Linked DNA regions of Homo sapiens. The protein of the gene in region 5 purifies or fractionates together with the protein of the main gene of each other region. This does not show direct contact. Each region holds a gene or a part of one and is shown on either strand. Other genes may lie near its edges. The genes, in order: RANBP2, KIF22, CDH5, DNMT1 and CHFR.

Region 1 (4,563 bases), on a different chromosome or scaffold from region 5:
TATGTTTTGGCATTGTACCTTGAATCTATTTCTTCATTTTGAAAAGGGGGAACTGGCTGGGCTCAATGGCTGACGCCTGTAATCCCAGCACTTTGGGAGGTGGAGGAAGTCAGATCACAAGGTCAAGAGATCGAGACCATCTTGGCCAACATGGTGAAACCCCATCTCTACTAAAAATACAAAAATTAGCTGGGCATGGTGGCGTGCGCCTGTAGTCCCAGCTTGTACCCGGGAGGCAGAGGTTGCAGTGAGCTGAGATCGAGCCACTGCACTGCAGCCTGGCGACAGAGCAAGACTCCATCTCAAAAAAAAAAAGGAAGGGGGGAACAAGCCTTGTTCCTTTACGTGCTGTCCTGACTGCTGTGTATTATTTTTGTTAAGATTGCTGTAGTTCTTTTTTTTTTTGAGACGGAGGCTTGCTCTGTCGCCAGTGCTGGGATTGCAGGTGTTAGCCTGGCATTGAGCAACGTTTTGTAATTTAAGCATACAAGTCTCTCACCTCCTTGTTTACATTTATTCCCAGGCATTTTTTTCTTTTAGATGCGATTGTAAATGGAATTGCTTTCTTAATTTCCTTTTCTGATTGTTCGTTGCTGGTACAGTAGTCCCTTCTTATCCACAGTATTGCCTTACGTGGTTTTACTTAGCTGTGTCACCCGTGGTCCAAAAATATTGAATGGAAGATTATATAAATAAACATTTCATGAGTTTTAAATTGCAAACGGTTCTGAATAACATGGTAAAAATCTCACGGCCTCCTGCTCCGTCCTACCTAGGACACAAGTCATCCCTTTGTCCGACATATTCATGCTGTATGTGCTCGCCACCCGCTAGTTACATACTAGTCATCTCAGTTATCAGATCAGTTGTTGGAGTATTGCAGTGCTTGTGTTCAAGTAACCTTTATTTTATTTAAAATGGCACCAAAGAGCAAGAGTAGCGATGCTGGCAGTTCACATATGCAGAGAGAAGCCATATAGTGCTTCCTTTAAGTGAAGAGGTGAGTTTTTTTGTTTTTTTTTTTTTTTGGCTTAAACAACAGAAATTTATTTTCTCATGGTTCTGGAGGCTAGAAGCGGCAGATCAGGGTGCTGCTGCTTTGGTTCCTGATGAGGGCTTTCTTCCTGGCTTATAGGTTGGCTGGCATCTTGTCCTCACATGGCAGAGGGAGAGTACTGTAGTCTCACCTTGCTTTTTATTATTATTATTTTTTTAATTTATTTTTTTATTGATAATTCTTGGGTGTTTCTCACAGAGGGGGATTTGGCAGGGTCATGGGACAATAGTGGAGGGAAGGTCAGCAGATAAACAAGTGAACAAAGGTCTCTGGTTTTCCTAGGCAGAGGACCCTGCAGCCTTCCGCAGTGTTTGTGTCCCTGATTACTTGAGATTAGGGAGTGGTGATGACTCTTAACGAGCATGCTGCCTTCAAGCATCTGTTTAACAAAGCACATCTTGCACCGCCCTTAATCCATTTAACCCTGGGTGGACACAGCACATGTTTCAGAGAGCACAGGGTTGGGGGTAAGGTCACAGATCAACAAGATCCCAAGGCAGAAGAATTTTTCTTAGTGCAGAACAAAATGAAAAGTCTCCCATGTCTACTTCTTTCTACACAGACACGGCAACCATCCGATTTCTCAATCTTTTCCCCACCTTTCCCGCCTTTCTATTCCACAAAACCGCCATTGTCATCATGGCCCGTTCTCAATGAGCTGTTGAGTACACCTCCCAGACGGGGTGGTGGCCGGGCAGAGGGGCTCCTCACTTCCCAGTAGGGGCGGCCGGGCAGAGGCGCCCCTCAGAAGAGGTGAGTTTTTGACTTAGGAAAGAAAAAAGATCATATACTGGAGTTGCTAAGATCTATGGTAAGAACAAATCTTTTGTCCATGAAATTGTGAAGAAGGAAAAAGAAATTTGTGCTAGTTTTGTTGTGACACCCCAAACTGCAAAAGTTACAGCCATAGTGTGTGATAAGTGCTTAGTTGAGATGGACAAGACATTAAATTTGTGGGTGGAGGACACAAACAGGAAACATGTTTCGATTGACGGCAACCTGGTTTGATACTATTCATCGTTTTGGACATTCACTGGGGTCTTGGAATTTCAAAAATAAGATGTTTGAGTAGCTGTATACTCTTTATCACATGGATGGAACATACTCTGGTTGTATCAGCATTTTTTTTTTTTTTTTTTTTGAGATGGAATCATTCTGTTGCCCACGCTGGAGTGCAGTGGTGCGATCTTGGCCCACTGCAGCCTCTGCCTCCCGGATTCAAGCGATTCTTTGCCTCAGCCTCCCAAGCAGTGGGGATTACAGGGGTGTGCCACCATGCCCAGCTAATTTTTGTATTTTTAGTAGAAAGGAGGTTTCTGCATGTTGGCCAGGCTGGTCTCGAACTCTTGGCTTCAGGTGATCCGCCCGCCTCGGTCTCCGAAAGTGCTGGGATTACAGGTGTGAGCCACCGCACCCAGCCTGGTGTGCATCAGCATTTTGGACTTTGGAGTTTATGTAACCAAGGAGCCAGGCTGTGGACCTCGTTTATTACTTGAAGAATTCAATATTTATTTCTGCCTTTTTGACTCCTTGACTGTAAAATACTGATCTGATCTGTAGAGAGAACAGTACATGGACCAGGGAATCCTCAGTGCCTTAATAGATCCTAAGTACTTACTTATTCTTTCCCATAGAGGCTTACACATGGTAGGAAAAGAGATTTCTGGAATACCTTTCCTCCCCAAAGAAAGCTGGTTTCTTTTGTTTGTTAAGTGAGAGAGTGGTACCACAGGGTTTCCAAGATTTCCAAGGCTGATGAAAATTCTTCTGTTGTCTGCTTGTCTTACTTTCTTGAATTTATTTTTTGTATGTTATGTATTTATTATTTAGAGAGAGGATCTCCCTGTGTCACCCACGCTGGAGTGCAGTGTCACAGTCATAACTCACGGCAGTGTCAACCTCCTGGGCTCAAGTGATTCTCCTTCCTTGGCCTCCTGAGTAGCTAGGAACACAGGCATGCTCCACTATGCCTGGCTATTTTTTTCTCCCTGGAGACAGGATCTTGTTGTGTTGCACAGGCTGGTTTCAAACTCTTGGCCTCAAAGCTAGCCTCCCACCTTGGTCTCTGAAAGTGCTAGAATTAAAGGTGTGACCAACTGCACCCAGCTTATTTATGATGATGATGATGATGATGATGATGATGATGATGATGATGATGTTTGGGAGATGGAGTCTCGCTCTGTCGCCCAGGCTGGAGTGCAATGGCACGATCTCAGCTCACTGCAACCTCTGGCTCACTGCAACCTCCACCTCCTGGGTTCAACTGATTCTCGTGCCTTAGCCTCCCGAGTAGCTGGGGTTACAGGCACCCACCATCATGCCTGGCTAATTTTTGTATTTTTGTCAAGACGGGGTTTCACCATGTTAGCCAGGCTGGTCTCAAACTCCTGACCTCAGGTGATCCGCCCACTTCGGCCTCCCAAAGTGCTGGGATTACAGGCATGAGCCGCTGCACCCAGCTCTATTTTTTGTTTTGTGATAGGAAATTATAAAACATGGAATTATGCATTTGTCAGCCTTTAAAAAAACTTTTAAGTGAATGAAAGTGGCGTATTTGAACATCAACTTAGGACAGATTTTTACTACTTTTGAAAAAATGTTGGAAAATATTTCTGTATGAAAAGTAAAACAACTTTTAATTTTTTTTAGAAGTCAATGAAAGGATTCTATTTTGCAAAGCTGTATTATGAAGCTAAAGAATATGATCTTGCTAAAAAGTAAGTACAAACTGTAACATGTATTTTTTTTTTAAAATCAATGCCTTTTCTCATTTTCTTCTTTGAAATAGGTAAAAATATGTTCTTAGTAGTTCTTCCTAAGTGTATTCTGGAATAAGGGATTTATCACTCAGACTGATGCTAAGGACCAGCCTAGATTCCATTGAGATTGAAACCGTAATTAGTGTTTTCTGCATGCTGCTGCTTTATACCAAGGGCAAGAAATTGTTTGGCTTCAAATACTTTTTCTAAAAATTGTCTTCTGTTGGAGTAAAAGAGGACCATGCCTATATCTTAATTTGTTTTTGGTTAGATATCTGATACCTTAATCAGATGGAAAATAGCAATGAATAAAAAATTAAACCGTAATTGTAAGGCAGGAGAATAGCTTGTATAAAAGATGTTTAATTGACACAATATGTGATGCTCTAAGGCTCTATCCTAGGGATAAGAAGCTTGGTGATTCTGATTTCCTGACTTGGAGTGGATTAAAGCAGGAAATTAAGAGGGAGTCAGGCTTTTTTTTTTTTTTTTTAGGCAGTATCTGTCTCTCTTGCTCAGGCTGGAGTGCAGCAGCTGGCTCCATCTTTGCTCACTGTAACCTCTGCCTTCTGGGCTCAAGAGATCTTCCCACCTCAGCGCCCCAAGTAGCTGGGGATACAGATGCGCACCACCACACCTGGCTAAGGTTTGCATTTTTTGGTAGAGACAGGTGTCACTATGTTGCCCAGGCTAGTCTTGAACTTCTGAGCACAGCAGTCTGCCTGCCTCGGCCTCCCGTAGTGTTGG
Region 2 (3,630 bases), on a different chromosome or scaffold from region 5:
AAAGCAACAAATGTTAAACATTACATTTCCTAAAGCCCAGCTCAATTAATTGAGGACTGTGCTTGAAAAGCCTTTCCCTTCAATATTTGCAGAGGCTTGTTCCACCTCTGGGTAGCCCCCTAATCACAGAAAGCCCTTAATTATGTTAGGCTCCACCTGTCTCCTGGTAACCTCCCACTGGTCCTAGCCCTGCCCTCTGGGGGCTCAGAGCCTTGCATACTCACCCTGGTAACCCACTCCCTTCAGGCTGCCCTGGAGTTGGGTCTGGATCACATCTCCCTGATCCTTTCCAACAGAGGCTTAAGACGAAGCAAAAAGAACTGGAGGCCAAGATGTTGGCCCAGAAGGCTGAGGAAAAGGAGAACCATTGTCCCACAATGCTCCGGCCCCTTTCACATCGCACAGTCACAGGGGCAAAGCCCCTGAAAAAGGCTGTGGTGATGCCCCTACAGCTAAGTAAGTTTGACTCCAGGGGCTGGGGGGCCAAGGCAGCTGAGATCCTATAAGGGAGGAAGTGTTAGGAGCAGCTGTCTCCATGTCATTCATATTCTCCCACCACATACCAGTCCCAGGGAGGGGTGAGGAGGCTCTGAGGCAGTGCTGGGGGTGCTCTGCCCTCGGGTGTTTAGGACAGTGGGATGGACAAACGAGTAGAGGATTGAAGATAATGCAAGACTGACTGAAATTCCTTTAAATGCGGGTATAAAAAAGGTCATGTGGAAACACAACAGGTTAACTCTGGATGGAGGGGAGCTGGGGAATCAGAAATGGAAGAATCGAAGGGCTACCAGGGAGGGTGAAAAGTACCCTTTGCCCTGACTCCAATTCTCGATTCCTACTTTCAGTTCAGGAGCAGGCAGCATCCCCAAATGCCGAGATCCACATCCTGAAGAATAAAGGCCGGAAGAGAAAGGTGAAAGTAGCTGGGGGCTTAGGCTACACCTGGAGCCCAGAAGTAAGGGGGAGTAGGCTCTAGGGGGAGGAGCGTTGGCCTTGGGGTTAAACGAACTGGATGATGGCCGCCAGCTACTAACAGACCTCAACTTGCTTACCCCTGGAATGTGGTGATGGATGGTTCCTTGCAGGGCATTTAGGGTGGAAGGCAGTGATGTGGATGTACCTCGCAGAGCGGATGTTCCACTGTGTAGCCTGGCTTCTACCCTCTACAAGCTTAAGAGGGAAAACTTAGGGAACTATGACCTAAGCAGTCAAGCAAGAAACCACACATATGCACATACCCAGAATCGAACACCACTAGAACTACCCAAAAACTGAGATGGTTGGGGGAGGTATCATTTATTCATATTACTTTCTCCCATGTACTTTTTGAAAGACAGCTTATTCTTTCCCTTTTAGAGATGAGGGACCAGATTTAAGAGCTTATTTTGTGCTTTACATTCATTAACTCACTTGATCTCCACAGCAACTCCATGAGAAGGGTGCTAATATTACCACTGGGTACTGAGTAGTACCTCTCTTTCACTAGTTGCATAATAAGAATTAACCCAGAGAGTGACCTGAGGGCGGGATTTTGGACACACTTGACAAGAGAGGAAGAGGCTGGAGCGCAGGAGGTAGCTGGTGCTGGGCTCCTAGTCTTGGCAGAGGAGCCCAAAGCACTTGGCTGCCCTGCGTGTCACTCATCTCCCTTTGCCTCCCAGCTGGAGTCCCTGGATGCCCTAGAGCCTGAGGAGAAGGCTGAGGACTGCTGGGAGCTACAGATCAGCCCGGAGCTACTGGCTCATGGGCGCCAAAAAATACTGGATCTGCTGAACGAAGGCTCAGCCCGAGATCTCCGCAGTCTTCAGCGCATTGGCCCGAAGAAGGCCCAGCTAATCGTGGGCTGGCGGGAGCTCCACGGCCCCTTCAGCCAGGTAGCAGCCCACTGGACTGGGGGAGGGCGGGGGCGGGGGAGACCGGGTACCCCCGAGACCCTGTCCCCTATCGATCCTGTCCCGCCAGGTGGAGGACCTGGAACGCGTGGAGGGCATAACGGGGAAACAGATGGAGTCCTTCCTGAAGGTGAAGTCACGGCCCTGCCCCTCCTCTGCCTGTCCTGCGCCCCGCGCCCCTCTCTAACGTCGCTGTCTCCCTCCCTCCTGTGTTGCAGGCAAACATCCTGGGTCTCGCCGCCGGCCAGCGCTGTGGCGCCTCCTGACCGTCGTCTCCTCACTCCGCCTTTTCAAATTTTTGTATAACCCCGTGTTGTGTAAATACAGTTTTTGCTCCGGTGCTTCCGCCTGATTTTTGGGGCTGCGGGGGCGGGACCGGGGTGTGACCGCCTCGGGGTGGGCCGCGAGCAAGGCAGGCGACTCCACTGGGCGCCATCTTCGGGGAACGACTCAGCGCAGGATTGTAAATACACCGCTGGGGTGGGGCGGGGAGGACGGTGGCCTGCAGGACGCAAAAAGCGGAAGCCGAAGCATGAGGCCTGCGACCGTTAGGCGGGCGCGCGCTCAGGGATTAGCCCCGCCCCGTCCGTGCCCCCGGCGCGCGCGCTCCCCCATTCTCCCGCTCGGCAACGACGGCGGCCTTGTGCGCGTGCGCGCGAAATAACGGCCGCTGGCGGAGGGAGGGGGAGTGGAATCGTTGGCGGGGGGAAGAGGAGAGAAGCCGCCCTGTCTCCCGCGCGCCCACCACCTGCGCCATCGTCAGCCAATCAGCAGCCGTCTCAGGGGTCTCGCGCTCGGGGCGACTCGGGCTGCTGGGTGGCTCCCCCGTCCCTCCTCCCGCCAGAGTCCCTCTCGCGCCTGCCCCTCCCGCTGGCCACGCGCGCGCTCGCGCTAGCGCTCGCGCCCGCTCCAGCCTCTTGTGTGTCCTCGCGCCCCCCGCCCGCCCTCCCCGCGCGTAGTGTGCTCCGCTTCCCCCACCCTCCACCTCCCCCCTCCTGCCCGCCCCGCGCGCCTCCTCCCGGGTTCCCCCTCCCCCACCGCCGCCGCCTCCTCCTCCCGCCCCAGGGTGAGCGCGAGCCACCTCCCTCCCTCCCTCCGCCATGGATCCCAGCAACTGGAGCAGCTTCATCTTCCAGGTAACAACTCCCTCCCCCCGCCCCCACCCCCCTGCCCACACCCCCTCCTGCCCGCCCTCCCTCCCGTCCCACCCCCCCTCCGCGCGCCCGGTGCGCGCGCAGCTGTCCCCCTCCCTCCCTCGCGCCCTCCCCCGCCCTCCCCGAGGCGCCGGCTGGGCGCGCGCGCGGCGGGGGCCGAGGCTGCTCCCTCGCTCCCCCCACCCCGCCCCGCCAGGCTCCAACCGCCGCCGCCGCCGCCGCCGCCGCCCGGGCCCCCGCCCCCGGCCCCGGCCCCGCGGGGCCTCCCGCCCCCACCCAGGGGGCGTCGCCGCCGCCGTCGCCGCGGCGCTCCGCGGCCCGCAAGGCGCCCTCTTTTCCTCCCTCCCGCCGGCCGGGGTGCGCGGGCGGCGGGGCGGCCCGCGGGCCATGCGTTCGGCGCGGCCCAGCCCGGCCGGCCGGGGGCGGCGCCCCGAGCCCGGGCCCCGCGCGGCCCGCGCCCCCGGCCCCCGCTGAGCCCCGGGGGCCCCGCTGCGGCCGAGGCCATGTTCCCGGTGTTTCCTTGCACGCTGCTGGCCCCCCCCTTCCCCGTGCTGGGCCTGGACTCCCGGGGGGTGGGCGGCCTC
Region 3 (5,263 bases), on a different chromosome or scaffold from region 5:
TGGATCCCACTCAGAATTCCGCCCCAAGGACTGTTCTCCTTCCAGCAGGTCGCTCCTCAGTCTCCAGCATCATCTGTCTTCCCGTCTGCTGGATGCTCCCTGGGGACATGAGCGTGCTGCCATAGTTAAAAAAAAAAAAAAAAAAAAAAAAAAAAAACCCTCCCACTTCTCTGCTCCCATTCACTGTAAGACTTGGGGAAGAAGCTACAGTCACACGTGACTCCACATCCCCGTCCCCCTTTCTCCCCTTTCTCTAGCCCCTCCAATCTGTCTTGTCTACCTTTTCCTGTTTAACCTGTTCTGGTCACAGTCATTGATGACCTCATCTTCCAAATCCAAAGTTAAGTCTCAGCCCTCATGCTCCCCAGGCTGACCCACTGACTACTCCCCTGCCCTCCTCCTCTGCCCTCTCCTGGCATTCCTCCTTCATCATGGGACCCTCTTCTAATGGATCCCCAAATGTCAGAGGGTCCAAGTCCTCCCTCCCTCCAAGCTCATCCATGCCCATGGCCTCAGATGCCAGCCATAAGCTGTTGGGTTCCAAACCTCGACTCCAGGCTGGACTCACCCCTGTCTCCCCCACCAGCCTGACACCTCCACCTGGGTATCTAACGAGCATCTCAAACTCAACCTGCCTGAGACAGAGGAATCACTATCCCCTCCTCCTCCAAAAATATCCTTCCATCACACTCCCCATCTTGTGCTCTGATTTACTAAACGGCCCTGGGCCCTCTCTTTCTCAGGGTCTCTGCTTGCCCAGCTATATAATAAAACAAGTTTGGGACTTCCCAACCATTCACCCATGGAAAAACAGAAGCAACTCTTCAAAGGACAGATTCCCAGGATCTGCCCTGGGAGATTCCAAATCAGTTGATCTGGGGTGAGCCCAGTCCTCTGTAGTTTTTAGAAGCTCCTCCTATGTCTCTCCTGGTCAGCAGAATCTTGGCCCCTCCCTTCCCCCCAGCCTCTTGGTTCTTCTGGGCTCTGATCCAGCCTCAGCGTCACTGTCTTCCACGCCCCTCTTTGATTCTCGTTTATGTCAAAAGCCTTGTGAGGATGAGGCTGTGATTATCCCCATTTTACAGATGAGGAAACTGTGGCTCCAGGATGACACAACTGGCCAGAGGTCACATCAGAAGCAGAGCTGGGTCACTTGACTCCACCCAATATCCCTAAATGCAAACATCCCCTACAGACCGAGGCTGGCACCTTAGAGCTGGAGTCCATGCCCGCTCTGACCAGGAGAAGCCAACCTGGTCCTCCAGAGCCAAGAGCTTCTGTCCCTTTCCCATCTCCTGAAGCCTCCCTGTCACCTTTAAAGTCCATTCCCACAAAGACATCATGGGATCACCACAGAAAATCAAGCTCTGGGGCTAGGCTGACCCCAGCTAGATTTTTGGCTCTTTTATACCCCAGCTGGGTGGACAAGCACCTTAAACCCGCTGAGCCTCAGCTTCCCGGGCTATAAAATGGGGGTGATGACACCTGCCTGTAGCATTCCAAGGAGGGTTAAATGTGATGCTGCAGCCAAGGGTCCCCACAGCCAGGCTCTTTGCAGGTGCTGGGTTCAGAGTCCCAGAGCTGAGGCCGGGAGTAGGGGTTCAAGTGGGGTGCCCCAGGCAGGGTCCAGTGCCAGCCCTCTGTGGAGACAGCCATCCGGGGCCGAGGCAGCCGCCCACCGCAGGGCCTGCCTATCTGCAGCCAGCCCAGCCCTCACAAAGGAACAATAACAGGAAACCATCCCAGGGGGAAGTGGGCCAGGGCCAGCTGGAAAACCTGAAGGGGAGGCAGCCAGGCCTCCCTCGCCAGCGGGGTGTGGCTCCCCTCCAAAGACGGTCGGCTGACAGGCTCCACAGAGCTCCACTCACGCTCAGCCCTGGACGGACAGGCAGTCCAACGGAACAGAAACATCCCTCAGCCCACAGGCACGGTGAGTGGGGGCTCCCACACTCCCCTCCACCCCAAACCCGCCACCCTGCGCCCAAGATGGGAGGGTCCTCAGCTTCCCCATCTGTAGAATGGGCATCGTCCCACTCCCATGACAGAGAGGCTCCTCGAGGGCACGCTGGGCCTCCTCGTGGCTCAGAGCAGGGTCGGGGAAGGTGCACCCAGAGGTAGTGCCAAGGGCACAAATGGGCATCTCGGGGCTGAGGGGGGCAGGGCAAGGGCTTGGCTCTCCCAGAAGTGTATTCTCCAACTCAAAAAGGCCCACTGGCCTTCATCAGTGCCAGGCTCAGAGAGGGCAGTATTCTGCCCCAGTTGCCCAGCATGCCGGGGCAGAGGACTGGCACCCAGGCCTTGGCCTCCCCTCGGTGCCTTACCCTTACTGGAGAGGATTTACCAAGGCCTGACACCAGCCTCCTCAGCCCCCTACCCATACGCCACTAAAGCTCTATGCTGGGATCTGGGGAGGGGCCCTGAAAAGGAAGCTCCGAGCCTTGGCCCCTCTCGGTCAGCCAGTGCCCCCATTTCAGGATAGGCAAGCTGAGGCTTGGCTCTGGGCACTTGAGGTCTTGCCTTTCCCTCTGGGCCTTTCCCTGCCCAAACACCATCGGGGCCCACTATGTGTCAAGGGAGCTGTAGTCTGGACAGCGGTCCACCATTCCTCCCACCAGCACCCTTTCAAAGGCTAGAGCATAAGAGCCCCAAGGCCCCCACAGCCCAGGAAGTCCCCCAGAAGCAGGAGGTCTGGGCCAAGAGCCTGGCCTGGAGACAGCTGCCCTGGGTACAGATCCCAGCTCTCCCATTTGCTCTGGGGTGACCTTGGGAAAGTTACCCAGAGTTTCCAAACCACAGTGGGGAACAAGGGATGGTGTGGGGCTCATTATTTTACCATTAACAACTCCACAAGGTAGATACATTCTTTCTTTATATCTCAGTGAAAGCAACTGAGCTTTGGAAACATATGAGCTGGTGTGGGGATTTGAACCAGGATCTCGTACTCCAAAGCCCCAGCTCTCCCCAGGTCTCAAGTGTCTCATCTGTGAAATGGGGAAACAGTGTTTCCTCAGTCAATTGAGTGAAGTGAGCTACATCCCTGGTGCTGGGAATGGCACATAACATGAGATCTTTAAGGAATAGTGGCTGGATTTACCAGCTAGCACAGAGCCGATCCTGGTTGTGAATGTGATAAAGATTTTGGCCCTTGAGGTATGGTCAAACCCCATCACGGAGGGGTCCTCAGGTGCCCAGCAGGTACGAGGAAGGGGGTGCAAGTGAGAGGACATCGCGAGCACCTCTGGGCCTCTGCTCCATGTCAGGCTCCCTCCCCAGCGTGGACGTTTCTCATGTGTGATGGGCAGATAGGATTCTGACAAGAGAGGAAGGGCATTCCCAGGGAGGCAGCTTTGAGGAGTCGAGGGTGTACCTGGAAGGCTCTTTTGCCACAGGCCACTGGAGCCAGGGCCAGAAGCCCTGGTCCATCCTCAGGTGGTGGGAAGCCTGGGACTCTCCTCTGCCTGCCCTAGAGAGCAGCAGGTATCCACCAAGGGGCCCAAGAGCTGCTGAGCCCCTGAGCAGCCCTACCAATTTCAGCTTATGGTGGTGAGGGGTAGGGGAGGTGTATACTGGCCTGGAAGGGGTTAAGCTGCCCGCCTGCAGCCTCAGCCTGAGCTATTGTGTTGCCAAACAAGGGCCGGACATGAGGGCAGGAAGCCAGCAGGGGCCACACATTTTCTGCAAAGTTGGATGATTCACTGCTGACTTGGGGACACCCAGGGGACAGAGGGGACACCATCCCAGGAAGAATCTTAGGCTCATTTTGCCCACATGGACCCATGACTGTTCCCTGTATCCTCTCTCTGCACCCCCTCAGTCACACTGAAGCAACTATGAGAATTCCCATTTGACAGATGGGACCATCGAGGCTGAGGGAAGCTGTGCAGCCAGTCCAAGGTCACACAACCAACACAAGGTAGAAGCAGGGTGAGTGCGGTTCCTTCTGACCCACAGTCCATGCCACACTCCACAGTGAAGCTCAGAGAGGGGGAAAGCAGAGCAGTCCAGGCCACAGAGGCAGGCACAGGGACAAGCCAGGAGCCCAGTGATACCAGGGGAAGGAATGTTCTAGGAGGCAGGGCCTCAGGAGCTTCACCTCTGGCTGAGGAGATACTAAAAAGTCTGTCCTGATCCAGGTTCAAGCTGGTGTTAAGTGGGTAAATCATGGAGGGCTTGCTGGAGGAAGAGTGGGAATCCCAGATGCTAGGAGGCCTTGGGCAGCCCCTCTGCAGCCTGCACCTCAGTCTTCCCATCTCTTGAGAGTAGGGGATGGTCCCTAAACTAATTCAGGGATTTCCAGGTTGTCTGCCTTGGACCATAGCAAAACAGTCAGATCCTGGCAGGTCCAGATACTAGAAGGAGGAGGAAGTGGGACCCAGGGGCAGGCCGGGCTGGTGGTGAATGAGATTTCCTTCTGCAGAGGAACAGAAAGAGTAGGAGGTGGGCCCAGAGTAGAGCCAGGAAATGAGGTCAAGCGTAAGTTGGCCAGTCAAAGCCACACCCACCAGGCTGGAGAGGGCGGGTAGATAGGAGTCAAGACACCTGCACCCTTACTGAGCACCTACTGTGTGCCAGGCTTTGCACCCATGATCTCATTTAATCCTCCTGCCCAGGGAGGCAGCTATTGTTGCCTCCATTACAGATAAGGAAGCTGAGGCTCAGCAAGCAAGAGATGAACCCAAGGTCACACAGCTCCCGAGCAGCTGGGCAGGTTCAAATAGGCAGGTGCAAGGGCCTCATTCTGTTCCCCGCACTGCCCTGACAGTCCCAGACAAAGTCAGGAAGCCCAGAGGAGTCTGGAAGCCTCCTTAGCATGGGTGTTCTCTCCTTGAAGTTTGGAGCTGTCCCTTTAGAAGGCAAGGGGATAGACTAGATGACCCGGAGCCCAGAGATTCCAGCACAAATTTGTTTCACATCACAAAATAGGTCTGGCCAGTTGGTACCCTCTACCTTCATTCAGTGGGAATGAACTTGAACTCAGCCCCTGAATCCTCAATACAGTCTATGAGGATCCTCAATACAGTCTTTGAGTGATTGATTCGTGATGTCTGCCATAGGTGTGGAAAGGGGCATGTGGCAAGCTGAGTTCTGTTTTGCCAGCCCTGTCTTAAGAGGTGCCCTGCTCAGGGGTGTTTGCATATTCACTGGAGACTTTTTTGTTTGTTTGTTTGTTTGTTTGTTTGTTTGTTTTTGAGACAGAGTTTTGCTCTTGTTGTCCAGGCTGGAGTGCAATGGCGCAATCTTGGCTCACTGCAACCTCCACCTC
Region 4 (4,171 bases), on a different chromosome or scaffold from region 5:
CCCGCAGCCAGGCAGTTCAACACCCTCATCCCCTGGTGCCTGCCCCACACCGGGAACCGGCACAACCACTGGGCTGGCCTCTATGGAAGGCTCGAGTGGGACGGCTTCTTCAGCACAACCGTCACCAACCCCGAGCCCATGGGCAAGCAGGTAGGTGGGGAGGGGGCATCCGAGGGCCTGGGTCAGGCCCTGTACTTGGCGGCCTAACTAGGTGGAAGTGTGGGTTTAGCCAAGTGGGGGACAGCACCCCAGGACCCCAGGCACCTGGCCTCTGCCTCCTGCCCCTCCACGTCCACGGGACAAGCTCATAGGCCAAGGCCATGGCCGTATGCTGTCACAGTGCCATTTCCCTCCCTGTCCCCGACGGTGACCCGGCCTGGGTGCTACTGCCCTCGCCCACCGCGCCTCTTTCCCCCAGGGCCGCGTGCTCCACCCAGAGCAGCACCGTGTGGTGAGCGTGCGGGAGTGTGCCCGCTCCCAGGGCTTCCCTGACACCTACCGGCTCTTCGGCAACATCCTGGACAAGCACCGGCAGGTCAGTGGGGCGGCGCCCGCTGGGTCTGGACAGGAAGGAGGCTTCTGTGCCTGTCACCAGGTGGGGCTGGGGCCAGCGCAGTCACTTCCGGGAGGACGCCTGCTGGCTGCCGGGTAGCCCCATCACTCTCAGTGGGAAGACGGCCCACAGGAGGGACAGTGCTGAGACATCCGAGTCAGGCTGCGTCCCTATGCTGGTTCCTTACTGTTTGTTTTTGAGGCAGAGATTGAGCCAGAAGGACAGTCCGTCGCGCTAAAGGAGCAGGCTAAAACCCATGGTGGCGACAGCTCACTCGCTGTAGGTTCAAATGAACTAGCACCTTAATTCCTACCTGCTTCTCAGGTGTCGGGTTGGCTTAACAAGTTAGTCTATGAGTTAGTCTCAGTTAAGTGTATTTTCATCATAGGGCACGCGCATTGCTTAAAAACCAGTGTCCACGGTTCTTGTGAAAACCACATTTCACCCCTCCCCCCGAATCTGGTTCTCGGGAAGCAGCCACTCTCTCTTTTTTTTTTTTTTTTTTGAGATGGAGCTTTGTTCTTTCGCCCAGGCTGGAGTGAAGTGGCGTGATCTCAGCTCACCGCAACTTCCACCCCCCTGGTTTTAAGTGATTCTCCTGCCTCAGCCTCTTGAGTAGCTGGGATTACAGTCATGTGCTACCACACCCGGCTAATTTTTGTATTTTTAGTAGAGATGGGGTTTCACCATGTTGGCCAGGCTGGTCCCGAACTCTTGACCTCAGGTGATCCGCCTGCCTCGGCCTCCCAAAGTGCTGGGATTACAGGCATGAGCCACTGCGCCGGCCAGGGAAGCAGCCACTCTTAACTGGGAGCGAAACGTGTCTAGGTGGCCCATTTGTCTTTTTTTTTTTTTTTTCTGAGACAGGGTCTCACTCTGTCCCCTAGGCTGGAGTGCAGTGACATGATCTCTGCCCACTGCAACCTCCACCTCCAGGGTTCAAGTGATTCTCCTGCCTCAGCCTCCTGAGGTGCTGGGATTACAGGCATGTGCCACCATGCCCAGCTAATTAGTTTTTGTACTTTTAGTAGAGACGGGGTTTCACCATGTTGGCGAGGCTGCTCTCGAACTCCTGGCCTCAACTAATCCACCTGCCTTGGCCTCCCAAAGTGCTGGGATTACAGGCGTGAGCCACTGCTCCCAGCCCCACGTGTCTTTGTCTCAAGTCTTTCTGAAGCTCTTCAAAGGCCCAGTGACTTGTGGCTGTGGGGCGGGATGATGGGCCAGTTGGAGGGTCCAAGGATCTTGTGCTGGAAGGGTTTTGGGCCCATGTGAGCAGGACCAGAACCCTTCCCCAAGGGGTGCAATGCCCAGGTTGTCCTCCATCTGAGCAGGGGCTGGCAGTACACCTGCCCCCGGGCCTTGGGCCTGGGTGTCCACATCAGGCATTGCCCTTCTCCCCTCCTGCAGGTGGGCAATGCCGTGCCACCGCCCCTGGCCAAAGCCATTGGCTTGGAGATCAAGCTTTGTATGTTGGCCAAAGCCCGAGAGAGTGCCTCAGGTATGGTGGGGTGGGCCAGGCTTCCTCTGGGGCCTGACTGCCCTCTGGGGGTACATGTGGGGGCAGTTGCTGGCCACCGTTTTGGGCTCTGGGACTCAGGCGGGTCACCTACCCACGTTCGTGGCCCCATCTTTCTCAAGGGGCTGCTGTGAGGATTGAGTGAGTTGCACGTGTCAAGTGCTTAGAGCAGGCGTGCTGCACACAGCAGGCCTTTGGTCAGGTTGGCTGCTGGGCTGGCCCTGGGGCCGTTTCCCTCACTCCTGCTCGGTGAATTTGGCTCAGCAGGCACCTGCCTCAGCTGCTCACTTGAGCCTCTGGGTCTAGAACCCTCTGGGGACCGTTTGAGGAGTGTTCAGTCTCCGTGAACGTTCCCTTAGCACTCTGCCACTTATTGGGTCAGCTGTTAACATCAGTACGTTAATGTTTCCTGATGGTCCATGTCTGTTACTCGCCTGTCAAGTGGCGTGACACCGGGCGTGTTCCCCAGAGTGACTTTTCCTTTTATTTCCCTTCAGCTAAAATAAAGGAGGAGGAAGCTGCTAAGGACTAGTTCTGCCCTCCCGTCACCCCTGTTTCTGGCACCAGGAATCCCCAACATGCACTGATGTTGTGTTTTTAACATGTCAATCTGTCCGTTCACATGTGTGGTACATGGTGTTTGTGGCCTTGGCTGACATGAAGCTGTTGTGTGAGGTTCGCTTATCAACTAATGATTTAGTGATCAAATTGTGCAGTACTTTGTGCATTCTGGATTTTAAAAGTTTTTTATTATGCATTATATCAAATCTACCACTGTATGAGTGGAAATTAAGACTTTATGTAGTTTTTATATGTTGTAATATTTCTTCAAATAAATCTCTCCTATAAACCACCCTGGGTGGGTATTCGTGATTTGCACGGGACTTCTGGCTGAGGTCAGACAGGAACAAGCTCTTCCATGCTGAAGGCGACCCACGTGGAGTTTGAAGCTAGCACGTTTGAAGCTAGACACTCCGTGTGTCTGTCTGTGTTTGTTCAGAACTGAGTCACGTGAGTTGATCCCCATGACATGCAAATGGAACTTGCTAGTGTAGCTTCCAGGAAAGCCTTTTAAAGGAAGTCTTGGCTGGCCTTCCCCGTGGCTGGTAGGCCTTCTTTGGTCTGAAGTGGGTTGTGATGCCTGGCAGTGGAGCAGCCATCCTGTGACCATGAGGCAGAGCTCTGTGCTGCAACTGGTGGAATAAGGAGAGAGAAGTCACCACTGAGCTGCCCTTGGAGCCCCGGCCACCCCATCCCCAAGCAAAACCTCTTTAGTTGGGTTTTTTTTCTTTCCAAAGAATTTTTTTTTTTTTTTGAGACAGTCTTGCTCTGTTGCTCAGGCTGTAGTGCAGTGGGGCAGTCTCCGTTCAATGCAGCCTCTGCCTCCTGGGTTCAAGAAATTCTGCCTCAGCCTCCCGAGTAGCTGGGATTGTAGGCGCCCATCACCACGCCCAGCTAATTTTTGTATTTTTAGTAGAGACGATGTTTCACCATGTTGGCCAGGCTGGTCTTGAAATCCTGACATGATCCGCCCACCTGGACCTCCCAAAGTGCTGGGTTACAGGTGTGATCCACTGCACCCAGCCTCCCATTAGCTTTTTTTTTTTTTTTTTTGAGACAGTTTCGTTCTTGTTGCCCAGGCTGGAGTGCGGTGGCACGATCTCTGCTCACTGCAACCTCCGCCTCCCAGGTTCAAGTGATTTTCCTGCCTCAGCCTCCCAAGTAGCTGGGATTACAGGCATGCGCCATCACACCCAACTAATTTTGTATTTTTAGTAGAGACGGGGTTTCTCCATGTTGGTCAGGGTGGTCTCAAACTCCCGACCTCAGGTTATCCGCCTGCCTCGGCCTCCCAAAGTGCTGGGATTATAGGTGTGAGCCACCATGCCTGGCCAGCATTTTTTAATAGTGACATAACACTTCTGTGTGTCCTTTGGCCACTGGATGTACCGTTTCTCTGTGATGGCCACATGACTGTCTTTGCTGGGAGCTCCCTGGGCATTTGGGATGACTGCCCCTGCTCAGTCATCCTGGCTTATCATGTCTGTGCCATACAGAGACCTCCCATTTTTAGGAAGTCAATTTATATTTGTCACTCT
Region 5 (4,563 bases):
GGACTCAATCCTGTGAGAATTTTAGCGAGGGTTTACCTAACATTATATTTTAGGGATTTCCATTGTATAGAATATCAGACAATTAAAAATAATTTCCTTTGGGAGGCTGAGGTGGGTGGATCACGAGGTTAGAAGATCAAGACCATCCTGGCTAACATGGTGAAATCCCATCTCTACTAAAATTACAAAAAATTAGCCGTGTATGGTGGCGGGCGCCTGTAGTTCCAGCTACTTGGGAGGCTGAGGCAGGAGAATGGCGTGAACCCGGGAGGCAGAGGTTGCAGTGAGCCGAGATGGCGCCAGTGCACTCCAGCCTGGGTGACAGAGCAAGACTCTGTCTAAAATAAATAAATAAATAAATAAATAACGTCTACAAAGCCAAGGTGACAACATGGAAAAATACCTAGGTAGAAAAAGGCCACCTAGGCTGGGCATGGGCTCACGCCTGTAATCCCAGCACTTTGGGAGGCCAAGGCAGGCGGATGACCTGAGGTCAGGAGTTTGAGACCAGCCTGACCAACGCGGTGAGACCCCATCTTTACTAAAAATGAAAAAATTGGCCAGTTGTGGGCATCTGTAATCCCAGCTACTGGGGAGGCTGAGGCAGGAGAATCGCTTGAACCCAGGAGGCGGAGGTTGCAGTGAGCCGAGATTGCTCCACTATACTCCAGCCTAGGCCACAGAGCAAGACTCTGTCTCAAAAAAAAAAAAAAGCCACCTGAATATGTGCAGTTGGGGGCAAGCATGTTGCATGTTCAGAGCTAGAATGAAGCCCATCGAAGCCGTGTTAGGGTGGTGGAGCAGGTGAGATTTCTTTCTTTTGTGTCTCTCACTGTTTTCCTGGGATGAGCATGTGGTGTTCAGTTTAAGAAACGATGTGGGTCTGAGGCCGGGTGCAGTGCATCACGCCTGTAAATGTTCAGTTTAAGAAACGATACGGGTCTGAGGCCGGGTGCAGTGCATCACGCCTGTAAATGTTCAGTTTAAGAAACGATACGGGTCTGAGGCCGGGTGCAGTGCATCACGCCTGTAAATGTTCAGTTTAAGAAACGATGTGGGTCTGAGGCCGGGCGCAGTGCATCATGCCTGTAATCCTAGCGCTTTGAGAGGCTGAGGTGGGAGGATCCCTTGAAGCCAGGAGTTTGAAACCATCCTGGGCAACATGGTGAGACCCTGTCTCTACAAAAATAAAAAATAAATTAGCCGGGCCTGGTGGTGTGCACCTGTAGTCCTAGCTACTCAGGAGGCTGAGGTGGGTGGATCCCTTGAACCCAGGAGGCGGAGGTTGCAGTGAGCTGTGATTGTTCCCCTGTACTCCAGCCTGGGCCACAGAGCGAGACTCCATCTCTAAAAAATAACAAACCAGAAAATGTGAGCCTCGCCTTTTTTCAGGGATACAACTCCTCGCCATCACAGTCCATCACAACCTGGGTGGCGTTAGCTGGATGTGGCCCCGCCCCGATTTCCATGAGACCCCTCCTGAACAATGTTTCCAGAAAGAGTTGAGCTCCTGAGCCTGGTGCTGACGAATTGTGTTGGAGACAGCCCTCAGCGCTGAGTGCGTGTAACGAGTGTCCTCTCTCCACAGGTGCGGTCTGCCTGCAGCCTTTCTGCCACCTGTACTGGGGCTGCACCCGGACCGGCTGCTACGGCTGCCTGGCCCCGTTTTGTGGTAATACTGGCTCTTCAGGCCCCAGTTGCTTTGACCTTTGCATGTTCTCTTGGTGAACTTGAGGGCAGGGGATGGTGGGGTCCATAGCCTGATGTTTATAGGGATGAGGCCACTGTTGGTCATCAAATGATACCTATTCCTGGCTGGACTGCAGAGGTGTGTCAAATTCGTGTTAGCTCAAAATCAAGCCTTAACAGAATTATTAGGGGAGATACTCCCAGGACAGAATCCTTGCAGCGGGGTTCTGCTGTTACGATACCAAGACCAGGTGCTGGGGAGACTCGGAGAGCTGATCTTTTTAAGGAGGGAGTGGAATGGAAATCATTTCTGCTTGTCCTCTGTTTAAAATTGAGTTTTATCATTGAACTTCTTATTCTTTCTAGAATCTGTAATGAAAAGAAATATGTTTATCCTCAGTGTCGGGCAGACAGTGCTTTCCTGCGACATCATTATAAACAGGTAACATTGCCCCTTCATCTCGGCAGAGCTCAACCTGGGTGACAAGTGTCTGGACGGCGTGCTGAACAACAACAGCTACGAGTCAGACATCCTGAAGGTACCGACTCGCTGCGGGCTGGGGAGCCGGGAGCCACATTTTCTCCCTAGTGCAGCCAGCTGGTTCTCTGCATTCTATTGGTGTTTATCTGTTTTACCTGACCCGCTGCGGGTTGGGGAGCCGGGAGCCATGTTTCCTCACTGGTGCAGCCAGCTGGTTCTCTGCATGCCATTGGTGTTTGTCTGTTTTTTCCGTATTCCAAAAATAGGTATTTCGTTTTTGTGCCTCCTGCCACCAATTCGTAGGAGCCGCTTCCCGCAGCTCTTGTTCCCGGCAGCTCTTGTTCCCACAGCTCTCGGTGAGGGCTTCTTGAAGGTGCCGCCCTTTAGCAAGACCAGGGCCTTTTCTCTGGTCCCTGTCTCTTCTGGCCATTTGCCTTCCCACGTCTAGGAAGCTACCTCGGTTTCTAGGATTTACATATGTTTAACATGCGCATTCGCCCTCCTGCCGAGCACTTTGCTGACAGCACACACAATGGTGGGGCCTTGAGGCTTGCCACAGACACACCTGGCAGGCGCCCGCTCAGCCCCACACTCTGCTTTGATGCCCACAGAAGGAGCTCAACAGCTCGTGTGTGTTTGAAGGGCACAGAGAACAGATGCCAAGTCCTCAGCTTTTCTTGTGCAACAGCCTGGGCTCGTTGCTGGGCTGTGTGCACTGTGGCCTGGCTTTCATGTCTCATTCACACCTGGGCTGTGTAGGTCTTGGCAGAACTTTTGAGAGACTCTGGTAACTGTTACACTGGAACCTTTTGGGACTTCCAGGAGGCTCTTGGACAAGACTTCTCGTGCTGCAGGCCGTGAACGTGCAGCCCTCTGCAAATGCCACTTATAAGGGTCTGAGCTTTGGCTTTGCACACTTTCAGGGGCCTTTTATGAAATGTTTTCTCTCGTTATTTCAGTGTTTCTTCCTCTAAACGAGTATTTCTTATTCCTCTCTTTTTTTGCGTCACAGAATTACCTGGCAACCAGAGGTTTGACATGGAAAAACATGTTGACCGAGAGCCTCGTGGCTCTCCAGCGGGGAGTGTTTCTGCTGTCTGGTGAGTTCTTCTGTTGCCTCCTGCTCTAAGGCGCATGTGAGTGTCCAGGGCTGTGCCTGCGTGTCTGCTCTCCCAGTGACAACTCCGACCTTCACCCACCCTGGAAGAGAGGAAAAAGATCCTGATGCTTTCAGGTTGTTTTTGTTTGTTTGTTTGTTTTTTGAGATGGAGTCTCGCTCTTGTTGCCCAGACTGGAGTGCAGTGGCATGATCTCAGCTCAAGGCCCCCTCGGCCTCCTGGGTTCAAGCGATTCTCCTGCATCAACCTCCTGAGTAGCTGGGATTACAGGCATGTGCCACCACACCCAGCTAATTTTGTATTTTTAGTAAAGATGGGGTTTCCCCATGTTGGCCAGCCTGGTCTTGAACTTCTGACTTCAGGTGATCTGCCCACCTCAGCTTCCCAAAGTGCTGGAATTACAGGCGTGAGCCACTATGCCCGGCCTTCAGGTTGTTTTTTGAAAGTTGAGCGTGGGCCGGGTGTGGTGGCTCACGCCTGTAATCCCAGCACTTTGGGAGGCTGAGGCGGGCGGATCATGAGGTCAAGAGATTGAGACCATCCTGGCTAACACGGTAAAACCCTGTCTCTACTAAAAAAAGAAAAATACAAAAAATTAGCCGGGCGTGGTGGCGGGCGCCTGTAGTCCCAGCTACTCGGGAGGCTGAGGAAGGAGAATGGCGTGAACCCGGGAGGCGGAGCTTGCAGTGAGCCAAAATCACGCCACTGCACTCCAGCCTGGGGGACAGAGCGAGACTCCGTCTCAAAAAAAAAAAAAAAAAGACAGTTAAGCATGAACCTGTATGACATATTCCAGCAGCTTCTATCCTTGTAGGGGAGGGTGGGTGTGGCCGACTGCCACTACTGCTGCTTGAGACCCTCACTACAGCAGTTACTGCTGTTACTGCTTGAGACCATCATTACAGGACTGAACAAAGGGACAAACGTAGAAATGAAAACAAAAAGACAAAAGAAACTTTTAAGGAAAGGCAACATGGGGAAGAAGAGGAGAGCTCCCTGCTTCTAGTGAGTAAAGGCTGCCCCTGAGCTTCTACAGCCCTTCATATTTATTGGGTAACAAGAGCAAGGAGGAGGTAACAACTGGGCAGCTGCTAAATTGATCACAGGTTCATACTGTTACTGACAGGCTTCAATTATGCCTAATCATAAGAAACATTTGTGTGGCCTCCAACAGGTGGGGCCAGCTTGGAGGGTCTCTACCACTTGTCTATCCAGAGGTCCTGGGGTCAGTTGTCCTGGGACCCTCGGGGACTTGGTGAATCTCTTGCTTGATGT

The links.
Region 1: the proteins of CHFR (region 5) and RANBP2 purify together in Homo sapiens (affinity purification with mass spectrometry, with the first as the bait; one large-scale study listed by BioGRID). This does not show direct contact.
Region 2: the proteins of CHFR (region 5) and KIF22 purify together in Homo sapiens (affinity purification with western blotting; one study listed by BioGRID). This does not show direct contact.
Region 3: the proteins of CHFR (region 5) and CDH5 purify together in Homo sapiens (affinity purification with western blotting, with the first as the bait; one study listed by BioGRID). This does not show direct contact.
Region 4: the proteins of CHFR (region 5) and DNMT1 purify together in Homo sapiens (affinity purification with western blotting; one study listed by BioGRID). This does not show direct contact.

The regions. Positions count from the first base shown.
Region 1 is NC_000002.12:108,725,426-108,729,988, forward strand, and holds part of RANBP2 (E3 SUMO-protein ligase RanBP2), read left to right. Parts: intron 1-3,706; coding exon 3,707-3,774; intron 3,775-4,563. UniProt on the Homo sapiens protein: E3 SUMO-protein ligase which facilitates SUMO1 and SUMO2 conjugation by UBE2I. Involved in transport factor (Ran-GTP, karyopherin)-mediated protein import via the F-G repeat-containing domain which acts as a docking site for substrates.
Region 2 is NC_000016.10:29,803,153-29,806,782, forward strand, and holds the end of KIF22 (kinesin-like protein KIF22), read left to right. Parts: intron 1-246; coding exon of another isoform or gene 247-296; coding exon 297-456; intron 457-845; coding exon 846-913; exon of another isoform or gene 914-919; intron 920-1,661; coding exon 1,662-1,874; intron 1,875-1,962; coding exon 1,963-2,022; intron 2,023-2,110; coding exon 2,111-2,158; 3' UTR 2,159-2,232; downstream 2,233-3,630. Other genes in the region: MAZ (myc-associated zinc finger protein), read left to right, coding at 3,550-3,630. UniProt on the Homo sapiens protein: Kinesin family member that is involved in spindle formation and the movements of chromosomes during mitosis and meiosis. Binds to microtubules and to DNA. Plays a role in congression of laterally attached chromosomes in NDC80-depleted cells.
Region 3 is NC_000016.10:66,364,829-66,370,091, forward strand, and holds the start of CDH5 (cadherin-5 preproprotein), read left to right. Parts: upstream 1-1,862; 5' UTR 1,863-1,930; intron 1,931-3,814; exon of another isoform or gene 3,815-3,924; intron 3,925-5,263. UniProt on the Homo sapiens protein: Cadherins are calcium-dependent cell adhesion proteins. They preferentially interact with themselves in a homophilic manner in connecting cells; cadherins may thus contribute to the sorting of heterogeneous cell types.
Region 4 is NC_000019.10:10,132,100-10,136,270, reverse strand, and holds the end of DNMT1 (DNA (cytosine-5)-methyltransferase 1), read left to right. Parts: coding exon 1-150; intron 151-418; coding exon 419-535; intron 536-1,963; coding exon 1,964-2,054; intron 2,055-2,569; coding exon 2,570-2,604; 3' UTR 2,605-2,925; downstream 2,926-4,171. UniProt on the Homo sapiens protein: Methylates CpG residues. Preferentially methylates hemimethylated DNA. Associates with DNA replication sites in S phase maintaining the methylation pattern in the newly synthesized strand, that is essential for epigenetic inheritance.
Region 5 is NC_000012.12:132,845,750-132,850,312, reverse strand, and holds part of CHFR (E3 ubiquitin-protein ligase CHFR), read left to right. Parts: intron 1-1,588; coding exon 1,589-1,672; intron 1,673-2,157; coding exon 2,158-2,228; intron 2,229-3,182; coding exon 3,183-3,270; intron 3,271-4,563. UniProt on the Homo sapiens protein: E3 ubiquitin-protein ligase that functions in the antephase checkpoint by actively delaying passage into mitosis in response to microtubule poisons.